7 linked regions of the Homo sapiens genome follow. The protein of the gene in region 3 interacts with the protein of the main gene of each other region in a pairwise test. Each region holds a gene or a part of one and is shown on either strand. Other genes may lie near its edges. The genes, in order: SOD1, TOR1A, AP2B1, DBH, SLC25A6, AP1M1 and A2M.

The links.
Region 1: the proteins of AP2B1 (region 3) and SOD1 interact in binary tests that used the Homo sapiens proteins (3 or more experiments, as listed by UniProt).
Region 2: the proteins of AP2B1 (region 3) and TOR1A interact in binary tests that used the Homo sapiens proteins (3 or more experiments, as listed by UniProt).
Region 4: the proteins of AP2B1 (region 3) and DBH interact in binary tests that used the Homo sapiens proteins (3 or more experiments, as listed by UniProt).
Region 5: the proteins of AP2B1 (region 3) and SLC25A6 interact in binary tests that used the Homo sapiens proteins (3 or more experiments, as listed by UniProt).
Region 6: the proteins of AP2B1 (region 3) and AP1M1 interact in binary tests that used the Homo sapiens proteins (3 or more experiments, as listed by UniProt).
Region 7: the proteins of AP2B1 (region 3) and A2M interact in binary tests that used the Homo sapiens proteins (3 or more experiments, as listed by UniProt).

Annotation. Positions count from the first base shown.
Region 1 is NC_000021.9:31,666,062-31,669,431, reverse strand, and holds the end of SOD1 (superoxide dismutase [Cu-Zn]), read right to left. Parts: intron 2,984-3,370; coding exon 2,914-2,983; intron 2,175-2,913; coding exon 2,057-2,174; intron 962-2,056; coding exon 854-961; 3' UTR 501-853; downstream 1-500. UniProt on the Homo sapiens protein: Destroys radicals which are normally produced within the cells and which are toxic to biological systems.
Region 2 is NC_000009.12:129,814,137-129,817,636, forward strand, and holds part of TOR1A (torsin-1A precursor), read right to left. Parts: intron 87-3,500; coding exon 1-86. UniProt on the Homo sapiens protein: Protein with chaperone functions important for the control of protein folding, processing, stability and localization as well as for the reduction of misfolded protein aggregates.
Region 3 is NC_000017.11:35,625,322-35,628,821, reverse strand, and holds part of AP2B1 (AP-2 complex subunit beta), read right to left. Parts: intron 2,202-3,500; coding exon 1,980-2,201; intron 1,438-1,979; coding exon 1,317-1,437; intron 1,192-1,316; coding exon 1,096-1,191; intron 1-1,095. UniProt on the Homo sapiens protein: Component of the adaptor protein complex 2 (AP-2). Adaptor protein complexes function in protein transport via transport vesicles in different membrane traffic pathways.
Region 4 is NC_000009.12:133,635,207-133,639,162, reverse strand, and holds the start of DBH (dopamine beta-hydroxylase precursor), read right to left. Parts: upstream 2,801-3,956; 5' UTR 2,792-2,800; coding exon 2,453-2,791; intron 1-2,452. UniProt on the Homo sapiens protein: Catalyzes the hydroxylation of dopamine to noradrenaline (also known as norepinephrine), and is thus vital for regulation of these neurotransmitters.
Region 5 is NC_000023.11:1,385,652-1,389,113, forward strand, and holds the end of SLC25A6 (ADP/ATP translocase 3), read right to left. Parts: intron 1,769-3,462; coding exon 1,628-1,768; intron 1,109-1,627; coding exon 951-1,108; 3' UTR 501-950; downstream 1-500. UniProt on the Homo sapiens protein: ADP:ATP antiporter that mediates import of ADP into the mitochondrial matrix for ATP synthesis, and export of ATP out to fuel the cell.
Region 6 is NC_000019.10:16,200,911-16,204,410, reverse strand, and holds part of AP1M1 (AP-1 complex subunit mu-1), read right to left. Parts: intron 953-3,500; coding exon 796-952; intron 1-795. UniProt on the Homo sapiens protein: Subunit of clathrin-associated adaptor protein complex 1 that plays a role in protein sorting in the trans-Golgi network (TGN) and endosomes.
Region 7 is NC_000012.12:9,102,420-9,105,919, forward strand, and holds part of A2M (alpha-2-macroglobulin isoform a precursor), read right to left. Parts: intron 1,982-3,500; coding exon 1,820-1,981; intron 1-1,819. UniProt on the Homo sapiens protein: Is able to inhibit all four classes of proteinases by a unique 'trapping' mechanism. This protein has a peptide stretch, called the 'bait region' which contains specific cleavage sites for different proteinases.

The sequences.
Region 1 (3,370 bases), on a different chromosome or scaffold from region 3:
TCACTAATTCGGTGTGTAAATTATTTCTCAACAGCCAGAACCCACAGTCAAACATTTCCTTGGTTCCATCTTCTAATGCTACAGATTGCTTTAAAGGGCTAATCTGTAAGTAGGTTGTGCCAGCGTCTACCCTTGAATGTAGAATTTGTGCCATTCTGGCAGGTAGATAATCTTACTAGCTAGCTGAGGCTGTAACTTGCCTTTCAAAGCTCACTAAAAAGTTATCAAATGGCTCTCTTACATCATAATGTCTTTTTAAAATGAGGAGGTACTTTATGAATCAAAATGCTAAAATGACTAAGCAGGAACATTTCCCTAAAGCTTTCAAAGGACAGCCTATTTGTCTAAGCAGAGTTGTGTTAGTTTTAGCTAAAAGACCTGCTGTTTTAAAGTATGCATTTTGATGGTCTCAAAACACTTTCAAAATAAAATGCTATCACTGTTAGTATTACTAAATCTGTTCCACTGAAGCTGTTTATATAAATAAGTATCAGAGCTAATTTAGTTTGAATTTGGATTCTTTTAATAGCCTCATAATAAGTGCCATACAGGGTTTTTATTCACAGGCTTGAATGACAAAGAAATTCTGACAAGTTTAATACCCATCTGTGATTTAAGTCTGGCAAAATACAGGTCATTGAAACAGACATTTTAACTGAGTTTTATAAAACTATACAAATCTTCCAAGTGATCATAAATCAGTTTCTCACTACAGGTACTTTAAAGCAACTCTGAAAAAGTCACACAATTACACTTTTAAGATTACAGTGTTTAATGTTTATCAGGATACATTTCTACAGCTAGCAGGATAACAGATGAGTTAAGGGGCCTCAGACTACATCCAAGGGAATGTTTATTGGGCGATCCCAATTACACCACAAGCCAAACGACTTCCAGCGTTTCCTGTCTTTGTACTTTCTTCATTTCCACCTTTGCCCAAGTCATCTGCTTTTTCATGGACCTGTAAAAAATTTTAAGAAGATAACTTTGGGCTGTCAAGTAATCACTACCTCCTCCCAACAATACCCAAAAGATGTTTAAGAACCTCATAATATTAGAAAAATAACATTAATCCTAGTAGAGAGATATACTAATATTTAGTAGTTTAAAAGTAGAAACTACTACTCAAAGCTTTTTCTTGGTGTTGCAAAGACATTACCTTTAAACATTAGGTAAGTGTTGCTGTCTAAATGAAATACTAAAACCCAAATAACTATGTTGTAGACCACCACACGCTACCCTTAATCCTCCATGGTAAGTTACAGTAACCTTAGTTCCGCAGTCACTCTTACTTTGGCAGTTTTTTTAATTGCTTTGGAAAAAAAGGAAAGTGAAAGTGAATAAAACTCAAAATTTCATGCCAAATGAATGACGGGCCTATAAGTAAGGTATAATCCTAAAAAATCTTAATACTTTAAGCAACAGTATTTTGAATTTTGTTCAACAAACCTTTATAAATGATTTTTCTGCTTTACAACTATGGCTCAAGAAAAACCATAAAAATAAAGGGTTAACTGAATGGAAGTGACTACTGAATGTTAATGCCCTCAAGGGGAGGTAAAAGAGAGCCTGTCTACTTGGTGTTTTGCAAGAACCAGATGCAGTTCCCCAGGATAACTTGGGACAACAGCTTCCCACAAGTTAAACAAGTCATGATAACCTGCAGTCCTGAATGAACATGAATGAACATGAATACTTAAGTCCATCCCAGGTTTTAAACTTAACAAAATGTTCTGTTTAACAAGTGAGAAACCCAATCCTGGCAAGAAAATCTGGCCATTTTAAAACTAAAGACTACTTCTGTTTTCCAAACTCAGATCTAATATGGTCAAATGTAACCTGCTTTTTACTGCATCTTAGCAGAACAGTGTTCTTAACTGACCTAGATAAAATAATTCATTTTCACCGTAATTGTCCAATAAAATTGCTTTTCCTAATTTGAACTGCAAGTACAGTTTATCTGGATCTTTAGAAACCGCGACTAACAATCAAAGTGAAAAGATACATGACTGTATGTTAGAAGAAGTTTTATGCATATCCTTTTATGAAAACTTACCACCAGTGTGCGGCCAATGATGCAATGGTCTCCTGAGAGTGAGATCACAGAATCTTCAATAGACACATCGGCCACACCATCTTTGTCAGCAGTCACATTGCCCAAGTCTCCAACATGCCTAATAATGAAAAAGCATCAGATGGATTAGGGCTGATGCCACTAAACATCAAGGTAGTTCATGAGCTAAATTAAAACTTGACTGAGTAGACACAAATTTGCAAACAAGTAGCTAGGCATTCTAAATACAGCTCTTCAAACAAGGCTTCACGTCTACACACTAATGCTCTGGGAAGAAAGATGGGGCTGCACCTGATTTCAGAAGTACCAAAGGGTAAACTCTCAGTTACTGAGTTATGCCTGTTAATTACTGGCATAGCTAACAAAGCTATGTCCCAAGGCCTCTGATATAAAAATCTTGTCCTTAAATTTAATATTTTTCTGAAAGGCTTTCAGAAAACATACACATATAAATGGAGTCTCGACTAGTTTTCAGTATCAATTTTTTTTTTTATCTACAGAAGCTTCCTATGTTTCACAATGATGATTGATTTTGCTAGTGGTTGACAGTACTGTTCATGACATTTCCTGTATTAGTTCCCCTTTGGCACTTGTATTAGTTCTATATTCAATAAATGCTACAAAACCAAATCGTTTTAAGTGTCCCCATTTGTCAATTCCTTTAAGCCCAGGAAGTAAAAGCATTCCAGCATTTGGGAGCAGGGGTTTAGATGAGTCAGCAAGTTCAAAAGCAAAGGTGGGGGAAACACGGAATTATCTTAGCACATATTTACAAGTAGTATACCATATGAACTCCAGAAAGCTATCGCCATTATTACAAGAGTTAAGCATCTTGTTACCTCTCTTCATCCTTTGGCCCACCGTGTTTTCTGGATAGAGGATTAAAGTGAGGACCTGCACTGGTACAGCCTATTTATAAGAAGAAGAAAAAAAAGCTAAATTATGAATTAAAGTTCCCAAATACATTCTAAAAAGAAACACTGCTAAAACTTCCCATGGAGAAAGTGCTGACCTGCATCACGACTTCTGGGATAAGCAACACCTTGGTACAGCCACAGTGAGAAGGGAACAGAAACAAGTCTATGGCCAGGCATGGTGGCTAACACCTGGAACCCCAGCACTTTGGGAAGCTGAGGTGGCTGGATCATCTGAGGTCAGGAGTTTGAGACCAGCCTGGCCAGCATAGCAAAACCCTGTCTCTACTGAAAAAATACAAAAATTAGCTAGGCGTGGTGGTGCGCACCTATAGTCCCAGCTACTTAGTAGGCTGAGGCAGGAGAATCGCTTGAACCTGGG
Region 2 (3,500 bases), on a different chromosome or scaffold from region 3:
TTTTAGGTGTTTGTATTCCAGGGGGAGGAAGGGAACAAAATAATCAATGAGGTTCCGGTCAATTAAGCTGCTGTGCCAGAAGCCACCTGGGAAGAAGAAACAAGGTGCTGTTCATCCACATCCACCCACCTGCCCTATAGACGCCTCCTGGGGGTCACTTACCTACCCTCCCATCCGTCCCACAAACGTCTACTGGGGGTCACCTATCCATGCCACACACACCTACTGGGGGTCACCCACCCACCCCCCCCACATCTACTAGGGGTCACCCACCCTCCCATCCATCCCATACACACCTACTGGGTGTCATCCACCCTCCTATCCATCCCATACACATCTACTGGGTGTCATCCACCCTCCTATCCATCCCACACATACCTACTGGGTGTGCCCTCTCCCTTGTGGAGCTCCAGATCAGTGGGGAAGGCAGATGTTAACAGGCACCTGCACATTGTAATGCTTCTGTGACAGCAGAAGCTGTGACAGCCCTCTTTACACGGCGGGCTGGGGGAGGCCTCCCAAGGTATGACTTAAGAGATCGAAGATGGGAAAGAGGTCCTGGGGCCCAGGAACAAGCAGAGAGGCAGAGTGGGGAAGGCAGAGTTCCACAGAAAGCGGGAAGCAAGAAGAATTCCCGGGAAGGACTACCAGCCACGCCTCTGTATTTGGGAACTTTTTGACTCTCCCTGGAGTTTCAGCAGCTGGACTAGCAACAGGGAAGCCTGCTGCCGCTGCCACAGTGCCCAGACCCTGCAGAGCATGTGGGCACCAAAACTAGCCTGGAGAGTGCAGATGTGCAGCCCACGCTGGGCTCCCCGTGAAGGCCTGGCCTTGGCCGTGTTTTCTCCCCTGAATGCGGGCTGGCTCTGCACTGACCCGTCCACTCCTCCTGGGCTCCTGGAACTCCTGACCCAGGACACTTCCTCCCAGCCCCAGATGACACAGCACACACTGCGTCGCCCACGAGCCCATGCGTGTCTTCTACTGAGCTGATTCCCTTCTGGTCTGCCATGTAATTCTGGGGCTCCGTCCCCAACCCAAGCTCCTCCTCATTCACTGGGTTAATGCTTTTCATGCCCAACAGTGCTTTGCACACAACTGGTACTCAATAAATGTGTGGCTGACTGACAGAGTGGAGCCTATGGCCAGGGAAAGAACAGAACCAACCACTGAATGGGAACGAGGGGCTGTCTTGCTATCATGAACTCACGTGGGAGGCTGGTTCTCAGAGGCCTGCTCTGTGCCAGGCACGCCCTGGGCCTGGGGACACAGCTGAGGGCAGACGGACCTCACGGCTTTACCACTCTAGGGCAGGAAACAATCTCAGATGGTGCTTGGAGTGGCGAATGCCACACAGCAGAACGGACATGGAGAGCGGGAGGTGGAGCAGGCTGGGCAGGACCTCAGGGCAGAGCCCGAGCAACAAGGACCCAGCCACGCAGACCCAGGAGTGACGGCAGAACAGGTGACCTCAGGCAGCCCTGAGACTTCACAGTCATCTCCTGAGGACTCCCAAGTTTGCCCTCCTGGCCTGATGGCCTCCCTGGAGCTTCGTGGCTCTGCTCTGATGCCCTGATGCCATTGCCCACTGAGCTCGCCCGTCCTTCCTGCTGTCCCTTCCCTTCAATGGCAGTGCCACCCTTCCCATCGCTCAAGCCAGGTCCTTGATTCTTCTCTCATTCCCATATACAATTCTGCAGGAAGTCTTACAGGTTCTACCTTCAAAACACACCCAGAAGCCAACCGTGTCCCTCCACCCCCACCGCTTCCACGCTGGGCTCCCTGCCCCTGTGGCTGTGGGTCTGTCCTCCATCCAGTTGCCAGCAAGGTCCTGTGAAGGCCCCGTCAGATCACAGCACCACCTGCCCAGGACCCTCCAGGCCTCTCTCTTCCACTTGGAATAAGACTCAAGGTTCACCATGGCCCGCCAGGCTTCCCACGGTCTGCACCTCCACCCCAAATCTCGCCTCTTCTATCACCTCCCGTTTCCCTCCTCTGTTTATCCTCAACCAGTCACAGGGACCCCAAGCACAGGCCCCCCTCGGGCCCCTGGACGTGCTGTCCGCACTGGGGAATGCTTTTCCCTCAGACATCCACATGGCTCACTCCCCCGGGTCAGCCCAAATGCCACCCTCACAGGGAGCCTTCCCTGTCCACTCTATTAAAGCAGAGCCCATCCTTACCCTGAACCCCAAAGCCTTTCTTGATTTTTTTCCCCTACTGGCCCCGGGGGGAAAGATATCTATATGTCCACATGTGTACATGTGCGATGTGTGCATATGTACTGCATGTATACACACAAACACATCACACACATCAACATATCTATCCCCCATCATCTGATACATTTTCTTTCTTTATTATCACTAGGATGTAGGATTGATAAGGGCAAGAATTTCTGTGTTTGTTCACTGCTGTGTCCCCCGTCCTAGGTATGATGCCTGGCACTTACCAGATGCTCCATATACATGTGCTGAATCAATGTTCAGCCATCTGCCTGAGGTCACAGTCAGTCTGTGGGCCAGGGCTGCCCGACTCCCAGGTTGGCACTCCTAAGCACCGTGTAACCTCCACAGCGTGGATTCTAGGCCACGGGGCTCATCTGCCTCAGCATTAGGCTAAAGTTTCCACTGCATGTGCTCATGTTTTTTGGCAAGGCAAGAAACTATCCAACATGTTACAAAATACTTGTCTTTCCTCAGTAGTATTCCACTTGCACACACTGACATACTGTACCCCATGCTGTTCACTAACTGTAGGATTAATTTCTTGGCAAGTCTGTTTCAAATGAGCCCTTCTGTTTTGTCATCTCCAGAACCTGAAGCGCAAAGACTTGAACAGCCAGCCCTGCACAACTCACAGGTCTTAGCCAGTGAGTCAGCCTCCATCAGGCTGGCTTTCCACCTCCCCAGGTTCAAGGTCAAAGGTCTCATGACATTTGGAGAAGTAGTGAGCTAAAACTTAAAAGCTCAGGTTTTAGAATCAGAGATACCGAACAGGCTGCATGGCCCTGGGCAAGCTGCCACATCTCTGAGTCTCAGTCTCTACCCTGCGAGGTATGGTGAAGACTGAGTGAAATCCGCAGGCAGGCTGTTTCACACGGTGCCCAGTACAAAATAAGGGCCGAACCGCTATTTGGCTGTTGCTCTTGGGCAATGCAGAGAAAGGGAGGAACTAACAGGTCATCTCTCCCCCTGAGCTGCCCACGGCATCCTTCCTTGCTCAACCACTGGCTCTTTCTTCTACAAAGAAAATCATGTAGCTGAAGAAAATGGGGGAACTGGCCAGGCGTGGTGGCTCACGCCTGTAATCCCAGCACTTTGGGAGGCCGAGGCAGGCGGATCACGAGGTCAGGAGATAAGACCATCCTGGCTAACATGGTGAAACCCCGTTTCTACTAAAAATACAAAAAATTTGCCGAGTGTGGTGGCAGGTGCCTGTAGTCCCAGCTACTCGGCAGGCTGAGGCAGGAGAATGGTGTGAACCTGGGAGGCAGAGCT
Region 3 (3,500 bases):
AAAGGCATATTATTTCAATCTACCATGATAATGGATATAGGAACAAAAACCTTCATTATGTAACTACACTGGAAAACAGGAGACGGAAGTGGGAATGGTGGGTGTATGAAGTAAACTTCTTATAGCAGATAGTTAACAGAAAAAGTCTATGATAGGTAAATTAATAAATAATAGCATAAGAATATTATTGTTGTTCTTTTTTTGAGACAGCGTCTTGCTCTGTCACCCAGAGTGAAAAGGTTTCAGGTTGGAGTGCAGTGGCACAATAACAGCTTACTACAGTCTCAGCCTCCCAGACTCAAGCAATCTTCCTGCCTCAGCCTTCCAAGTAGCTGGGACTACAGGTGTGTGCCACCACACCCAGCTAACTTAAAAAAGTTTTTGTAGAAACAGAGCCTTACTATGTTGCCTAGGGTGGTCTCAAACTGCTGGGCTCAAGCAGTCCTCTCACCTTGGCCTCCCAAAGTGCTGGGATTACAGGTGTGAGCCACTGCACCCAGCCAAGAATATTATTTAGAGATATGGCAGCCCAGTCATGTCTCCAAATCCATGGGAGATTGGTTCCTGGGCCCCTGTGGATACCAAAATCCATGGATGCTTAAGTGCCTTACATAAAATGGTATAGTATTTGCATTTATACACATTCTCTTGTATACTTTAAACCATCTCTAGATTATTTATAATACCTAATGCAATGTAAATACTATGTAAATAATTGTTATATTTTTAAGGAATATAGACAAAAAAAGGTCTGTACATGTTCAGTACAGACAAAACCATCCTTTTTCTTTTCCCCTGAATATTTTTGATCCGCAGTTAGCTGAATCCACGGATGTGGAACTCATGGATATGGAGGACCTATTTTAATCAAAAGAATAACTAAAAGCAAAATCAGAGTTAAAAATATTCCCTCTGAGAAGAAAGTCTAGGTAGGGAAGGGAGGAACCAGAGACAGCTGCTTTCCATTAAAAATTCTTTAACATTGAAACTGTGTGCTTTATTATTTTGATAAACTTAAAAATTATTTTAAAGAAAAAAGTGAAGAGAACTCTCAGAATCCCCAATACATGATCCTAACTACCATCAGACACTTGCCTCCACCTTGATGGCACACCGTCCAATGGCCCGCACAGCTTTTCGAACAAAGTCAACATCCACCTCTGTAGCATATTCTTTCAGTTCTGCCAGAACCTGTTAAACCCAGGAAGTGGTTAATCATTAAGGATTCTCAAATAGCAATCTCACAGCCTAGCTTCTTTAAAGGCCAGACCTTAAGAGCTAAATCATCATCAACTTGAGTCTGCATAAAGTCTGACCTGAGCAATGTTGGCTTGAGATGCCAAACGAATCATGATGTCCAACTTCTCTAGTTTAACATAGATGGGATCATTGTACTTCACAAAGAAGACTTTGATTTCCTGCTTCAAGATTTCAGGCCTAGGGTACACAGAAACAGAAGAAAGGAAGGTGAAGGCATATACTGATATACCCTTCTGAGACTGTATTAATACCTAATCTGTGCCTCTCTGCTCTCCTCTCGCTCCACTCAGGCAAAAAAAAAAAAAAAAAAAAAAAAGCATAAACTTCCTCTATACGCCTCTATTCTTATCAGTTCCACTTGGCAGATTATTTTTATCCTTTTTAAGCATCAGGGCACATGTTGCCATGAAGAACTGCTAGAACAACAATCTGGCTCTAAACTACAGCCTGAACCATATCAACCAGGCACTAGACAGTATATCAGAAAGAGACCCTTCAGAAAACAAACTGGATTGTGGAGCAACGCATGGCATTTATTATAGAAACACTGTAATATCAACTGTTAGCCTCCTGGTGCTAGGCAAGCAAGTTTTTCTGCCATATAACATTTTCATTTCCATATATTAAAAAGAGATTAACACTAGCCTAATTAACATTGACATTATTAAGCTTAATGCAAAATTACAAACACTTTAATCAACACTTCGCTATTTCCCAACCTTTTCTGGACAATTAAGTTGATGTTCCTCAGGGCGACATACTGCACTTCTGGCTCCCCAGACAGCAAAGTGACAAGTGGAGGGGCTAACTTCTTCAGCAGCATATTGTAGTAGTCAGAATCCTTAGGTAACAATTCTAGAAACTTCATTAGGACTTTTACCGCTGAAAGCACCACTGCTGAGTTGGCATGGGATAGCCGGGGAGTTACCCGCTCACAGATGCTGAGGGTGGAGAATGAAAATTAATATCATGAATTATAATTTATTTGCTGAATTCATTCTATAAGGTAATATGTCAGAGTCTAATGGCCAAGTATCAAAAAATTAAAGAATTAGTTAGAAAAGTCAAAGCTCCATGCTTAGGTAAAATTGGGATCCAACAATGCAGAAGCCTCATTCTCAGCAAACTACAGGCAGAGCAGGGACATAAGAAGACTTCAGGAAACCAGTAATAAGGGATGTTCAAACTGGAAAGAACCTAGCAATACCCAAGACACTTGAGCTCACACCATTTACCTTCTTGTTTTATAGTCCTCTTTGTCTCCCCATATTATGTTAAGGCTCCCTGCCTCTCAGCCCATTTCTACTCAACCTATAGGAAGTCAAATTAAGCATTCTGAGAGTTATTTCATAGGAAGAGACAGCAAACGCAGTTGTGGCTGAAGATTTCATTGTAAGATACAGCAGGAGGCAGGCTGGTAGGGAAAACAATCCAACCTCCTCTCTTAAGGATAATGAGAATAAGGGACTCTCTGAAAAGGGTTTGTTTTTTAAATAGCAGGACACCACTACTATATTTTCCTGTCTCCCCCCTCTCCTAGCCCCTGCCACCTACACTTACATGCCTCATAAAATGGTTGATATTTAATTATCTGTTGAGGGTTCTTTAGAAATTAATCCAATTTTGGTAGCTTGGGCAACACAAGTAGCTAACTTACTGTATTAAAGAAAGAAGATAAATAGGCTGTACTTCTCTCTTCCTCCTATTCCTGACTTCCTTTGGGTCTTTATATGAATGCCACCTTCTCAGTGAGGTCTTCCCTGGCCATCCTTTAAAAAGAAAATACAACCCCTCACCCCCAAATGCCCAGCATTTCTTAGATTTCTTCTCTACTTTACTTTCTTGTTAGTACTTATCACCATCTCACATATTACATATTACACTATCTATACATATTATATATTATATTATCTATACATATTATATATATTCCTACCCCCATCCTTCAGAATAAGTGATCCCAGAGGGCCATGACTTTGTTCACTGCTGTATCCTCAGAGCCTGGAACACTGCCTGGCACACAGTATGCACTTAATAAATATTTGCTAAGTGAGTGAATGAATGAATGTGATGTCAATGGCCAACAGAAGAAAATAAAATTCTCAGTAAAGTTATTTCCAGACTATATTTGTACTTTCAGTGATGGAAAGAAACTATCAGAGTGAGCTTTAGTTCAGTCCAGAGGGACAATTTCCCAGATAAGTGAAGATCACTTACATTCTAGTAGCTTGGAAATCAGC
Region 4 (3,956 bases), on a different chromosome or scaffold from region 3:
CCTTGCCCTCCCAAAGTGCTGGAATTACAGGCATGAGCCACCACACCCAGCCTGAAGCACCACTTTAAACCCTGCAGCCTAGGCATTGTTCCCCTCACCTTAGTCCCAGCCCTGCTTGGAGAAGGTAAACTGAGGCCCAGGGAGGCATTGGACCTGCTGCATTCTCCGAGGATGCTTCCTGGGATCTGGATCAGTGACCTCTGCCCTCCCCGTCTCCGGCCGCTCCCCTTGCACTGGGCCCTAAGGGGCAGGGACACGGTGGCCCGAGGCCAGGTCACATGGAAGACCACCAGGGAGACCCACTGAGAGACAGCGAGGAGCCTTCCCCAACAAGCAGGCTGCCCTTCGTACTCAAGAAGGGCCCTTCTTAGATTCCATATTTGTCTATTTGGCATCTATTAATTGATTGAAGGCTCAAACAGATGGTCAGAGTTGTTTACACCTGTCCTGCCCTCCAACATTCACACGTGTGTGAGAATCATATTCCTAACATTCCGACCCACACCAAGCCCATATCCCTAGCTACCTCCTCCACCTGACTCTCACACCCCAGGCCAATATTGCCCCAACCCTAAAACACCCTAGGGCCAGGAACCAGGCAACTAGAGACCACCCCAGCCACCCAGAGCCCACCAGAATTGTCCAAACGAAGCTGCTTCCCTGCCCTGCCTGGCCTTTCCCATGGAAACCCCAAGAAAGCCTCGGGCCCTTGGCCTTAAGGACTTTGGGTTGTGTTTCTTTTTAATCTTACATTCAGGGTAAAACATCTTTTCTTCATTTCCTTGAGAAAAAAGAAATCTGCAAAAGATACTGCAAAACTTTCCCTAGAGAAAAAAGCCACACAATGCAACCCCGCTGGGGACACCGCTGGTTTGCCGAGAGACTCATTTTAAACAGAGGCAGAAAGTTCGCCTGTGATATTTCAGCTGGAAATCAAGAAGATATTAGTTGAACATATTGCTTAGGGAGGAATAATAAGGCTGACATTTGCTTTCGTAGGAATTTGTTGTGCAAATTAACCTTGCCAGTGCACGGAAAGGCAAAGTCACCTGGCTTCCTCTGGCTTCCCTAGCAGCCGGGAAATGCAGGCAGGGGGGACGCTGCCCCAGAGAGGAGCAAATGCTCCTGCACTCAGGGTGCCTCATGGCAGAGGCTTGCGAAGAACCCCAAACTGTCAGCGATGGGGTTCAGCTGCTCCTCCAGACGGCTGACGGCTCAGAATCAGGGCTGTCCCAGGTCTTTCTTGGCTGGAACCTGAGCCACAGAGTGTCTTTGTGCACAGGAATCTGTGCAGCCCTATGGGTCAGAGCAGGGCCCTTCCCAGGCAGCTCCACTCACCCTACCTGGGTGGCCCTAAGCCTCACTAGCGACACAGGCAAGTGCCTCCTGGCCGAGTCTTGGGAATTGGAGGGGGCAAGCTCAGCTCCAGAAACAGCAGCCACCATCTGCCCTCATGAATTCACAACACCCAAAAAGGCAGAGAGGGACTCTCCGCCCCACCAGCCCATGGTGAGACCAAGATGCAGAGCTGGAGCCGGCCGCTCCGCACAGACACAGCTCCCCCGCTCCAGCTCGGCACTCCCAGATAAAGCAGGCACCTCCTGACTTCAGAAATAAAACTTTTTTGTCACTCCTTTGTGTGTTTCTGTGGAGAGAGTTGGGTTTCATCCACAAAGAAGCCCTGGTGGCCAGTCCCATGTGGAAAGGAAGGCTGGAGCAGGACCCATTGTAGGCGGTGGGCTCGCCCACTTCGGGGACCCCCTGCAGCTTGTGGAAGGGCCTAAAGTCCCCTCCAGTTTGAAGGGAAACTTTTCCCCTTTCTCCACCCTGTGAAACAAGAGTGGAGGTAAATTTGGACGGAAAGGAGTCAAGAGCCCATCCTAACAGTTTTGGCTGAGCCCTGTGGGGCTTGTTCAACACCTATGGGTAGGGGCAGGGTGTCTGCACCTGCTCAGTTGGTCCACGGGTACAAGCACAGTAGGTCAGGCTGGATCCCATGGGTGTGCAGGCCTCATGCTGTGCCCAGCCACGCGCCACCACCTGGCCCACATCAGTGGGCATGTGTGCTCTGGGGACGTGGTACTAGGCATTGTTTACAGGGCCGAGGGTCGTGGGGTCTGTGCTCATGCGCGTGTGGGGTGTGGAGCGGCACGAGTGTGTGTGGTGTGTGCGTCCTCTGTGTATAGTTCCATTCCTTGGGATTACTGGGTCCCATGATTTGGGGCGGGCAGTCAAGGACCATGGAAAGCATGTCTTTCCTATTTTGTCCTCAAACTGAGATCCCCATGATGCCCAAGCTCGGGGTGCAGACTTGGCTCAGAGCAGAGTCAACTCAAACACTGACAGGTGACAGAAGAACTTTCTGGGTTAAGGAGGGTGAGTGCAGAAAGACGGCCAGATGGGGTGCCGGGTCAGGAAGGGTTTGGAGAGCTGGCAGGGAGGAGAGACTCACCGCAAAATAGGCAGTGTCCCCATCGGTCCAGAGCACCACGAGATCTGCGTTCTCAAGCTCGCCACGGTCGGACATCCCAAACAGGACGCCAGCCTTGAGCCTCCGCACCAGGAGCTGGAAATGGATGGCCTCCTGGGTGTAGCTGACATTCCATGAGAGCTCCAGGGACCCCTCCGGGTCCAGGGGGATGTGATAGGGGAGGGGGCTCTCACGGGGAGCCGAGCCCTGCAGTGCGGCCACCAGGATGACCAGGAAGATGGCCACTGCTGTGCTGTACATGAAGGCTGCCTCCCGCATGCTGGGGCCGGGCAGGCTGGCCCAGCGACTGAGGGCGGGCATGGCTGGGGTGAGCTCTCTGGTCCCACCTGGCCATTTATGCCCTGGTCCTGAATGGGGTGGGTCCAGGCAGCACGGGTAATCACATTTGTCTAGCGGGGAATCCAATTTTCCCTCCCACAAGCTTGCGCCCCAGGCCAAGCACTCAGCCTGCTGCCCTCCTCTAATTGGCACTAATGACACATGGACGTCATCAGTGGGAGTTGAAGTAGACAGGCGGATGCTGTCCCTTCTGAGATGGCTCTGAAGAGCTGTCCCAAAAGCAGATGCACCCTGCAGCCAAGAGGCCTTTCAGACACCCTCTGGCCAGGCACCAGCTGACTGCCTCACAGGCTGTCTGGCCCAGTCCCCAGTGGGATGGGGTCTGCGTCGCCTCTACCCACGGATGAGCAGACTGAGGTCCGAGGAGCTGCTCCAGGCTGACCAGTGAAGGATAGGCCCGTAGCCACTGCAGGCCTGGCCTAGCGAGCAGAGCCGTTTGTACAATACTAGCAGGTGGGCCCATTTCAAACCAAAAATAAGACAATCTCCAAATAGTCCCTGTGTTTAGACACTCTCTCCACGGCCTGCTCTTCCCACTTTTGTCTCCTCTCAATTTTTCCACAGCCTCCAGCTGGTACCACTGCTGCTCCAGAAGGCGCGAGAGCATCATAGGGAGTGGGGGACATGGGCGTGGGGTGCATTGCTGGGGACAGACGGAGCTGGAGCTGCACAGGGGATAGGCAGGCTGCAGGGTGCACTGCTGGGGGTGACAGCCTTTAAGGAAAAGAGGGTGAGTGACAGGCCTGCTCCCCTGTCTCTGAAGCTCCCAAACCCACAGCTTCCTCTTGCCCAGAGCAGATCTGGCCTGAATTTGAAGCCTCTCAGGGCAGCTGGCCGCAGCCCTGCTTCTCCCACACCTGCCACAGGACCTTTGCCATCATCCACCCGTGGGCCCGAGGGTCAGTCTCACCACGGCACCTCTCCCTCCTGTCCTCTCCCACAAGTAGACTGAGGGCAGCTGCCTTCAGGACATTCTGCTTGATCCCTCCAGCTCCACCCCCCAGGCTGGGTTGACAGATCTCTCCAGCTGGACTAGAAGCTGTCCCTCCTCCCCAGCCTCCTCCCTCCCTTCCTTCCTTTTCCCTCCTGTTTCTCGTCTCTCTGGAGAAACCCAGAATCTAGCCTT
Region 5 (3,462 bases), on a different chromosome or scaffold from region 3:
GTGGGGGTCTTTGGGAGTCATGAGGCCTCATGGATGGGATCAGTGCCCTTACAGAAAGGACTCCAGAGAGCACCCTGGCCTCATCCATCATCTGAGGACACACAGGGAGAAGGCGCCATCTAGAAGCCAGGAACTGGGTACTCACCAGAGACTGAATCTACCATACCTTGGTTTTCTGGGACCTCCAGCCTCCAGAGCTGAGACATGAGATCATACAAATGCTCTCAGAGAGGGTACAGTAAGTGCAGGTGCCCTGGGGTCCTCCAGCATTTATCAGGGAGCCCGGCTACACTTCTGCCAGCCTTGGTTTCTACCCCCCGCCTCTTCCCAGCTGTGACCCTGCCCTCTGTGCCCCAGGGGTGCTGGGGAGGAGGCAGCACTGCAGACCAGGAACGTGGGCCAGCCACGGGCAGAGCGTGGCCCCATCTGCGTCCCGTGGGCCCAGCGCCCATCTCCAGACCCCAGGCCGCCCTGTGGAGAGGTGCGTGGCCAGGCAGGAGGACCTCTGCGTCCTCTGTTTATTGTTTTGCAGCAGGAGGCCCAACATAGAACATACTCGCCAGTACTCGGCTGTGCAAAACAGGGGCTAGCGCTGAAGTACAAATGGGAAAACGTGATTCTTTTGTTTTAAATAAATACTTAGAACACGACTTGGCTCCTACAAGCATCTGGACTCTAGGTCTCAGTACTGGAGTGTCTCACCCATGGGCCCCACGCAGGGACGCCACGGTTCCCTCCCACCCCGTGATCAAGACACGGAATCGGCTGCCGATGGTTGGATCGCAATGCGCCCCTTTTCTAGAGCCTTCCCCGGCCATCTACAGGCAGGATGCGGCTGGGAAAAAGACAACTGGAATTTCTCGAAGGTTGATGGTCCGCACGGTTGAGGATTCTACGTGGTTCTCTTGGTTCCCCTGGTGTGTGTGTGTGTGTGGAGGAGGCCGCGGCCCTTAGATCACCTTCTTGAGCTCGTCGTACAGGACCAGCACGAAGGCGCCCCCCATGCCCCGCAGGACGTTGGACCACGCACCCTTGAAGAAGGCCTTGCCCCCCTCATCTCTGAAGATCTTCCTCCAACAGTCGACGGTGCCCGTGTACATGATGTCAGCTGCAACGACAGGGAGACAGTGAGGGCCTCGCCGCCAAGCTCTTCAAGACACGGACGCCACCTGCACCCACAAAGACGTTTCACAGAAATAACACCCCAGACGCCTGAGCCACAGTTCTGATTACAGGAGGGATACCTGAGGCTCCCCCAGCTCAAGCCCTCCTCCTAAGCCACTGTCTCAGGGAGGGCTGGACACAGGACTTCAGGCCCCGCCCTGGGTGTCCCCCATCTCCACCCCGGGGTCCATGCAGAGAAGGCAGGATCGAGGGTGTGGGTGCAACCAGAGGTTCTAGGAGGCGGGGATTTAGAAACTGCCGCCCGGACCATGAAACCCCAAAAAGATCAGAAGCCCATCGTTCAGGAAAATCCTTCCACACAGCCAGGTTACTTTCGGACACACTTGCTTGTCTCACACGCCCTGGAAGTGCCTCCTTTGATGGTTCCTGACCTCCCACGGGCCTAGGGCAAGGAGCTTGGTTCCCCTTCCCGGCAGCAAGGGTCCCCCGCCCCCCCGAGTACCTCCTTTGCGCCCGGACTGCATCATCATGCGCCGCCGCACCGTGTCGAAGGGGTAGGACACCACGCCGGCCACGGCCGTCACGGTCTGCGCGATCATCCAGCTCACCACGATGTGCGTGTTCTTGGGGTCGGGGAGCATGCCTGCGCGGGAACGGCACGTCACCGTCTCCAGCGCCTGCACGGCCACCCGAGACCAGGGTCGGCCCCCAGGGTGTGCTCACGGCCCCCTGAGGTGGTGCCGAGCTCTTCCGAGACCACCAGTGCCCCCTCCACGTGGCTGCTCAGTGCCAGCTGACGTTTACAACACGAGAGGTCGGGGCAGGGCCAGAGGGGAAAAGGCCGCCTGCCACCTACCGGAGCCCAGCAAGACAGTCCCAGAGGCCGGGGTTAGGCCTGTTTGGGGAAGGGAATAGGGCCCTGACCTTCTGAAGGGTCACCGTTACTATGGGAGTTACACTCTGTCCTCAAAATCCACATGCTGAAGTCCCACCCCCACCCCAGGACCTCAGGATGCAACTGTACTTGGATATAAGGTCTTGAAAGAGGTAAGACTAAAGGAGGCCAGTAGGGTGGGCCCTGATCCTACGACCCCAGTGTCCTTCTAAAAAGAGATGAGGACACAGACACACGGAGGGATGACCCTGTGAGGACACAGGGAGAAGACGGTGTCTACAAGCCAAAAAGAGAGGCCTCAGAAGGAACCAGCCCTGCCCACTCCTTGATGTCAGACTTCCAGCCTCCAGGACTCCGGGAGAATCAATGTCTGCTGTTTATAAGCCACCCAGTCTATAGTATTGTTTTAGGAGCCTGAAATGGACTAAGACACCTCATAAGAAGAGCAGATAAGGACACAGACACACACAGAGGGATGACCCTGTGAGGACACAGGGAGAAGACGGCGTCTACAAGCCCAGGAGAGAGGCCTCAGGAGGAACCAGCCCTGCCCCACACCTTGATCTCAGACTTCCAGACTCCAGGATTATGGAAGAATCAATGTCTGTTGTTTACAGTCCACCCACTCTATGGTATTCTGTGATAGCAGCCTCAAATGGACTAAGACATCTCATCAGAAGAGGACACGAGGACACAGACACACACAGAGGGACGACCCTGTGAGGACACAGGGAAGACGGAGTCTCCAAGCCCAGGAGAGAGGCCTCAGGAGGAACCAGCCCTGCCCACACCTGGATCTCAGACTTCCAGCCTCCAGGACTGTGGGAGAATCAATGTCTGTTGTTTCTAAGTCACCCAGTCTATGGTGTTCTGGGATGGCAGCCTGAAATGGACTAAGACATCTCATAACAAGAGATGAGGACACAGACACACACACAGGAAAAAGCCTGAGAAGACAGCATCTCCAAGCCCAGGAGAGAGGCCTCAGGAGGAACCAGCCCTGCCCATGCCTTGGTCTCAGACCTTCAGCCTGCAGGACTGTGGGAGAATCAATGTCTGCTGTTTACAATCCACCCAGTCTATGGTATTCTGTGATAGCAGCCTGAAATGGATTAAGACATCTCATAACAAGAGGAGATGAGGACACAGACACACACAGAGGGACGACCCCGTGAGGGCACAGGGAGAAGACGGCATCTACAAGCCTAGGAGAGAGGCCGCAGGAGGAACCAGCCCTGCCCACACCTGGATCTCAGACCTCCAGCCTCCAGGACTGTAGGAAAATCAATGTCTGTTGTTTATAGTCACCCAGTCTATGGTATTCTGTGATAGCAGCCTGAAATGGATTAAGACATCCCATAAGAAGAGAGGATGAGGACACAGACACACACAGAGGGATGATGCTGTGAGGGCACAGGGAGAAGACGGCGTCTCCAAGTCCA
Region 6 (3,500 bases), on a different chromosome or scaffold from region 3:
GCTGTGAGTGGCAAAGCAGGCCCTTCCGCAGTAGTGTGGGTACTGAGATGGGCTTGCGGGTCTGCCCAAAGCTGTGGGGTGGCCAGTTAGACCTCCTGGATAGAAACTGGCTTGGCCAAGTCTCCCCATGGGCCCAAGGACAGGAAGGGTGGGGGGCTCTGAGATCTGGGCGGGGCTGTACCCCACCACCCCTCCGTGGTCCAGGCCACTTCCCCTCCCACCTGCACGATGGCCCCAGCCTACTCCCCACCTACCCATGTCCTCTCCTGTCCCCACAGTCTTGCCCCACTCAGCAGCCAGAAACCTCCAGAAGACACACATCTAAAAGCCTCCAGAGACTTCCTGTCACATTTCAGATGATGTTCTTTGAGACCCCAGACCCCGCTGACCACTCCAGCCTCGCTGCCCTACACGCCCCCTCTCCAGCCACCCCGAGTGCAGCTGTTGGAATGAGGCTCTTCCCTGCAGAGCCTTCACCCACGCCTAGTGCCTGCCCACCCCTCCAGCTGGCAGAAGCCAGGCCTCCCTGCAGGCTTCCTCCAGGGTGTCATTTCCCTTCCTGGGCCCCTGGGCTGAAGAGGTTCAAGTCACACCTGCTCCTCTCCCCACACCCATCACACATGTCATCGTGCATTGTCTGCCTGTCTCCGCAGGCAGCAGGGAGCTCCAGGAGGGCATGGCTGTGTCCAATGCTTGCGCTGTGCACAAACCAGCCCTGCTTGCAGGCGTGTGGATATGCACACACACCAACACCCACACAGGAGTCCCCTGGGAGCACCCCCAGCAAAGGGATACGATACAGGTTGTTGTGTTTGATCCACATGAAACGGACCCCCCCGTGGGCCAGGATGGGCGACAGCATCCCCTCCTCCTCCTTCTCCATCAGGATGGGCATGAAGTGCTCCACCTCTGACATGTCCACGTCGCCACGGTAGTTCCGGCAGATGAGCACCTGGGGTGGGGAAGGAAGAGAAAAGATGCTTGCATTTTCAGTTCTACAATCTGGGGGCTTGGGGCAGGGGGTGAGATGCACCACCCTGCTTCGCTCTGGGGACTCCGGTCATGGCCACTATCCGCAAAAGAGCAGGACTTGAGGCCGTTCTGATCTCCATCCCCCAGGGAATTCCTGGAGAAGAGCATCTCCCAGTGTGAATGCCCACAGGGGCCACTGCAGTTCTTCGCAGGGTGAGGGTAGAGGCGAACTCTGCAGCAAAGGTCCAGGACTGAATCACCCAGAGACATCAGGTTAAGCAATGCCTCACAAGCTCTCAATGCAGACCTTCTCAGAGCCTTTGCCGGGCCAACGCACCTTGCTCTCCCGCCTGTGTCAGGGCGCCCACTCCCGCTGAAGGTTCGTATTTACTGAAGTCCACAGGTGGCCTGAAGGGAGAAGCCCTCTTCCTGGTCTCTCTCTTTCATAGCCTGTGGGTCAGGATATACAGCATCCAGAACCCCTGTCCACTGCTGATAGGAATGGAAAATGGGACAACTACTTTGGTGTAGTCTGGCAGTTTCTCAAAAAGTGAAACCCAGAGTTACCATACGATCCAGTCATTCCTCTCTCTGGTATTTACCCAAGAGAAATGAAACCACATGTCTGCACAAACACTAGCACGAGAATCTTAACAGCAGCTTTAATTGAAACAGACCCAGACTAGAAACAATGCCAATGTCCTTCAGCAGGTGAACTAGAAACAAACTGTATCCGTGCACACCATGAGAAGCATGCCTCAGCAACGGAAGGGATCGGACTCCCGATACACAGGCGCATCAGAATCACTGTGCTGGCTGAGAGAAACCAGACAAACGAGAGCTCATCCTGCATGACTGCACGTGTATAAAATCCTAGAAAATGGTGATGAAAAACACATCGGTGGGTGCCTAGGGATGGGGCTAGACAGCAAAGGGGTGTGAAGAAGCTTTCGGGGGCGATGGAATGTGTGGTTATGGCTTCCCACATGACTGAGCTCATCAAATTGTACACTTTAGATAAGTGCAGGTTATTAATGTAAATTATACCTCATTAAAGAATAAAAAGGAGGTCGGAAGTTTTGCTAGCCTGGGCATGGCTGCGGTTGGAGATGCTGCCTGGAGCAGCTGCAGCTCTTGGGGCCTGCAGGACAGCCAGCTGCAGGACTCAGCAACATGCTGAGAAGGCCATTGCGGCGCTGACCATCCTGGGAACCACCTGCCTCAGAACTTGGCATTTCATCACACGCTGCCTTTATTCTCTCAAGGCGAGACTGGGGGTGGTGCGGGGTGGCACCTTCCTTTCCTAGTGTCTGCTTCGTGGCCTGTGGAACTGATTGGAGGGAGGCAGGTGATGACGTGTTGAGGGAACAGCCCCTCCCCCTGCTGTCACTCTTGACCCCCCAGGTCCTTCCTCACAAAGGGTGACAGGGCTCTTCCTACACAGAAGCCAGACGGGGTCTCTCCCCCACTGCTGAACTGCCACTTACCCCAGCCTCCCCGGCACTGAGAACAAAGCCCAAGCCCGTCCCCATGGCTCCCAAGGACCAGCGTGGTCTGGCTCCTCACAGCCCCTCTGACGCCTCTCTGCCTGCGCTGCCCTGGTTCACTCTGCTCCAGCCTGGCCCCTTAGCTGGTCTCTGAGTGATCCACATCTGTTCCCACCTCGGGCCTTTGCCCTGACCTGGCTCTTCTCATTTCTCAAGCCTCAGCTCAAATAACACCTCCTCTAGGAAGTCCTCCCAGCTGGGCGCGGTGGCTCACGCCTGTAATCCCAGCACTTTGGGAGGCTGAGGCAGGCGGATCATCTGAAGTCAGGAGTTTGAGACCAGCCTGACCAATATGGTGAAACCCTGTCTCTACTAAAAATACAAAATTAGCCAGGCGTGGTGGTGCATGCCTGTAGTCCCAGCTACTTGGGAGGCTGAGGCAGGAGAATCACTTGAACCTGGGAGGCAGAGGTTGCAGTGAGCCGAGATTGTGCCATTGCACTCCAGCTTGGCTGACAGAACGTAACTCCATCTCAAAAAAAAAAAAAAAAAAAAAAAAAAAAGAAATCCTCCCTGCTTGCTCTGGCTGAGATCATGTCCCATCCCTCTGAACCCTGACCCCTGCTTTATCCCTATCACCTGGTGCATTAAACATTTATTTCTATCCTCCTTTACTGTCTGACATCCCCTGAGAACAGCAACTACTCCTGTCTCATTCACAGCTGTTTTCCAGCACCCAGAAAGGGGCCTGGACCATAGTAGGTGCTCAGTAAACATTTGTGGAGTGAAAACAGGGGTGAGGAGACAAAGGAGGCGAGGATAACGTCCAGGTCTCTTGTGCAGATGGCTGAATGGGTGATGGCATCACTGAAATGGAAAGAGAGCAGGTACAGGGAGTGCATTTAGAAGAATGCTGAATTTATGGTGGCGGCGGGACCTCTCTGGTGTCTCAGAGGCCACTAGATCTCCAGAGAAATGCTGTGAACAAAATTGAGAGTCACTGGCCCATGGACATGAGTCAAAGCCCACCTGGGAAGAGTG
Region 7 (3,500 bases), on a different chromosome or scaffold from region 3:
TGCCTAGGCTCGTCTCGATCTCCTGGCCTCACGCAATCCACCCACCTCAGCCTCCCAAAGTGCTGGGATTACAGGCGTGAGCTACCGTGCCTGGCCTAGGCTGACTATTTTTAATGCTCCCTGCAATCTGGATTCTAATACCTCAGAGGCCCTATTTGGGTTATATTTCCAACTTTTCTTCCTGTAGAAGTTATTCCTTAGCTCCTTTCAGGCTTCCTCTACCTTCATCCCCAGCTCCCAATAGCACTAGTGAATCCTTGAGCAAAACATTTTGTTCATATCTTAATGTATATTTTGGTGACAACACATATATGATCACCCCAAACAGGGAACAGGTAGAAATAATAATTTCATTGTCAAGACTAGCACAGTGCTGGCACGTGGAAAGCATTCAAGACACTTTTTGAAATGAGTAAACATTCAAATTAGAGGGAGGTGCTTTTATGCCATCTATTAAAGCTAAATAAATAAAATGTATTATTTATTTCTCTATAACAAGGTAAAACTCTAAAGAGGCAGGCGTTTTCCATTACCATGATTATGTAATATATATTAAATATGTATTGTATATCCATGTATCTATAGACATGTCTACATCTCTCTTGATGAATAGAGGACTGCATGCTATACCGAATAACTTATATTGGTATGAACAGGTCATCTGGAGAAAATTAGAATAGCAAGACAAAATAAAGTAAGGTAATAATTTTTGGAGTATATATATTTAAAACTAAATGCTAATTATGTTAGAATTGGCTTTTATAGTAAAAGTATCTAACAGTTAAAGGGGGCTTACTAAGTGATTCAACATGTATGATTTCACTTAATCTTCACAACCACCCCAAGAGTCAGGTGTTAGTATTGCAATCATTTTACAGATAAGGAAATGAAGCACAGAGGTTTTAGTTAATTCCTTAAAATAGGGTTGAGCCAGTATTTTTAACCACTTTATCTGATTCAGATTCTGGAATTCACACTTTTCAAAAAAGTTATTATAAACACACACACACACACAACATAAAATTACCATCTTCATTATTCTTTAGTGTACAGTTTGGTAGTATTAAGTATATCTGTTGTGCAACAGATCTCCAGAACTTTTCATCTTGTAAAACTAAACCTGAATACCAATAAGAGGAATTCCCCATTTCTCTCTTTCCCTAGCCCTTGGCAACCACCATCCTGTTTTCTGTTTCTATGACTTTGACTACTTTAGAAACCCCATGTACGTGAATCATACAGTATTGGTCTTTTTGTGACTAGCTTATTTCACTTACCATAACGTCCTCAAGGATCATTCATGCTGTAGCATGTGACAGGATTTTCTTCCCTTCTCAGGCTGCATAATATTCTGTTGTATTTATATACCACATTTTGTTTACCTGTTCATCCCTTGATGGACATTTGGGTAGCCTCGATCTCTCAGCTATTGTGAATAGTGCGGCTATGAACACGGGTGTGCAAATAGCTCTTTGAGACCCCGTTTTCGATTCTTTTGAATATATGTCCAGAAGTAGGATTACTGGATCATTTGGTAATTCTATTTTTTAATTTTTTCAGGAACTACTATACTGTTTTTCATAGTGGCTCCGCCATTTTACGTTCCCAGCAACACTGCTAAAGTCTAACCCGCACTTTTAATCACAATATACTGCCTTCTTTTCATAAACTTTAAAAAAGTTAACCTTCAATCGGTTTCTAATTGCTAGTTTTTTTCTCTCCATAGAACTAGACACAGTTTGGAAATTTTCTCACCCTTAGGTTGCAACCTTGTTTCCAAGGCTACTTCATGTCATTGGTAATTTCTTTCCAAACTTACCCTAACAGTAAGAGAGGTACCCATAACATTGGTGGTGTTGATAGAGAACTGTACAAGGCCATGCTCATCCGTGGTAGCATTGGAGTAATAGTTTGCTTCATTTCCTCTGATGAATATGACTTTATTTGGTATAGGGACGCCTTTCCCATCTACTAGGCGCACCTGAAGATTAAAAGCTGTGGATTAGTTATATTGGTAATAACTAATAGGCACCAAACATATTCATTTATCACATTTTTTAGTGCCTCCTCTATGTTGAACATGGTTCCAGGCACTGAGGACACAGCAGTGAAAAAAAACGAAGTTTCTTCCATCACAGAGCTTACTGTCTAGTGAAAGAGATAGATGCTAAATAAATATATACATAACATACACTAATTTAGTAGTAATCAATCCTAAGAAGAAAAACAGAGCAGTGTGAAGGGATAGAGAGTGATAGGGATAATAACAAGAGTGACCTGAAAAATGTCTTCTAGATATTTTGGAAGTGCTGTGTATTATTATATATAACTCTTAGAGAGTCACAGAGCACTAGAGTAATATGATAATGAAATATTTTAATCTATTAATCTATTAACTAAATTTATTTGTGCCCCAAACACCTATTTTGGAGTGGACCATTAACTTCCTATAGATTAGTGTCTGAAGTCTCATAAGTGCACAAGTAAACAATTGCCAATACATTGTCCTGTGTGTTTCTCCAGTTGCCTTAGACATGGTCTCTGCTTCTCAACCTAGATCTTCAGCCTTTTGGAAGGTAGGCAGATTTTATGACACACTTCCCATGTGAAAAATATAAAATTGAAAAGAGGCACACAGTATTAAATAAGTTGCCAAATCTAATTTACTGCTAATATTGTATTGGCAGTTGAGTAGTCCAGTTCAGATTGTAAAGGTGGCAATTCTTTTTCAGTATAAGCTACAGTTGGTAGCAGGAAGAACAATAGGCTGACCCCCATCAGTACTCATAATTGATTTACAAAATCTAAGTTTGCCAGTGAAATGTTGGCTGCATGTACAAAGACAAGAATAGGCACATAATTCTGATTTTCTTCTAGCTAGAGAGTCTTATGACAAATAGGATATTTAACAGCAATAAAATGTACTTACAAAGTACACTATCTTTCTGAGAAATTTACAAATGAGCTACACTTTCATTTTAGGAAGTTGAATACATTTTGGTGTCATGACATAACCAAGCCTTCTAGAATGTACTCCACTTTGTTGAGTCTATGCCTCTTTTACACCCTTCATAGCTGAAATCCTGTAACATTTACATTAAGAAAATGATACACAGTAAATACACATTGAGGCACATGTAACTGTGATCTCAGACTTCTAGAGTCATAAAGATCCATTTGCACATCTGCTGACAACAGAAAAATTGTAAGAGAAGATTTTTTTGGTAGATAACATGAAAATTCATAATTCAAAAATCTGAGAACCTTAAATAGCAGTGTTTTACCCCATGTTCACTGTTTTAGAAATATACTTGTTATAGAAAAATAGTGTAAATATACTATCCATGAAATAAACATTATTGTAGAATCTTTAATACTTCAAAATAAAAATTAAAACCACCTACCCACCTGTTTCCATACAAAGTTAGTGTTAGCATCGTAATGAAACTGGTCAGCATGAATTTTGAGATTCTTGTGAGAAAATGTCATAAAAACCTGAG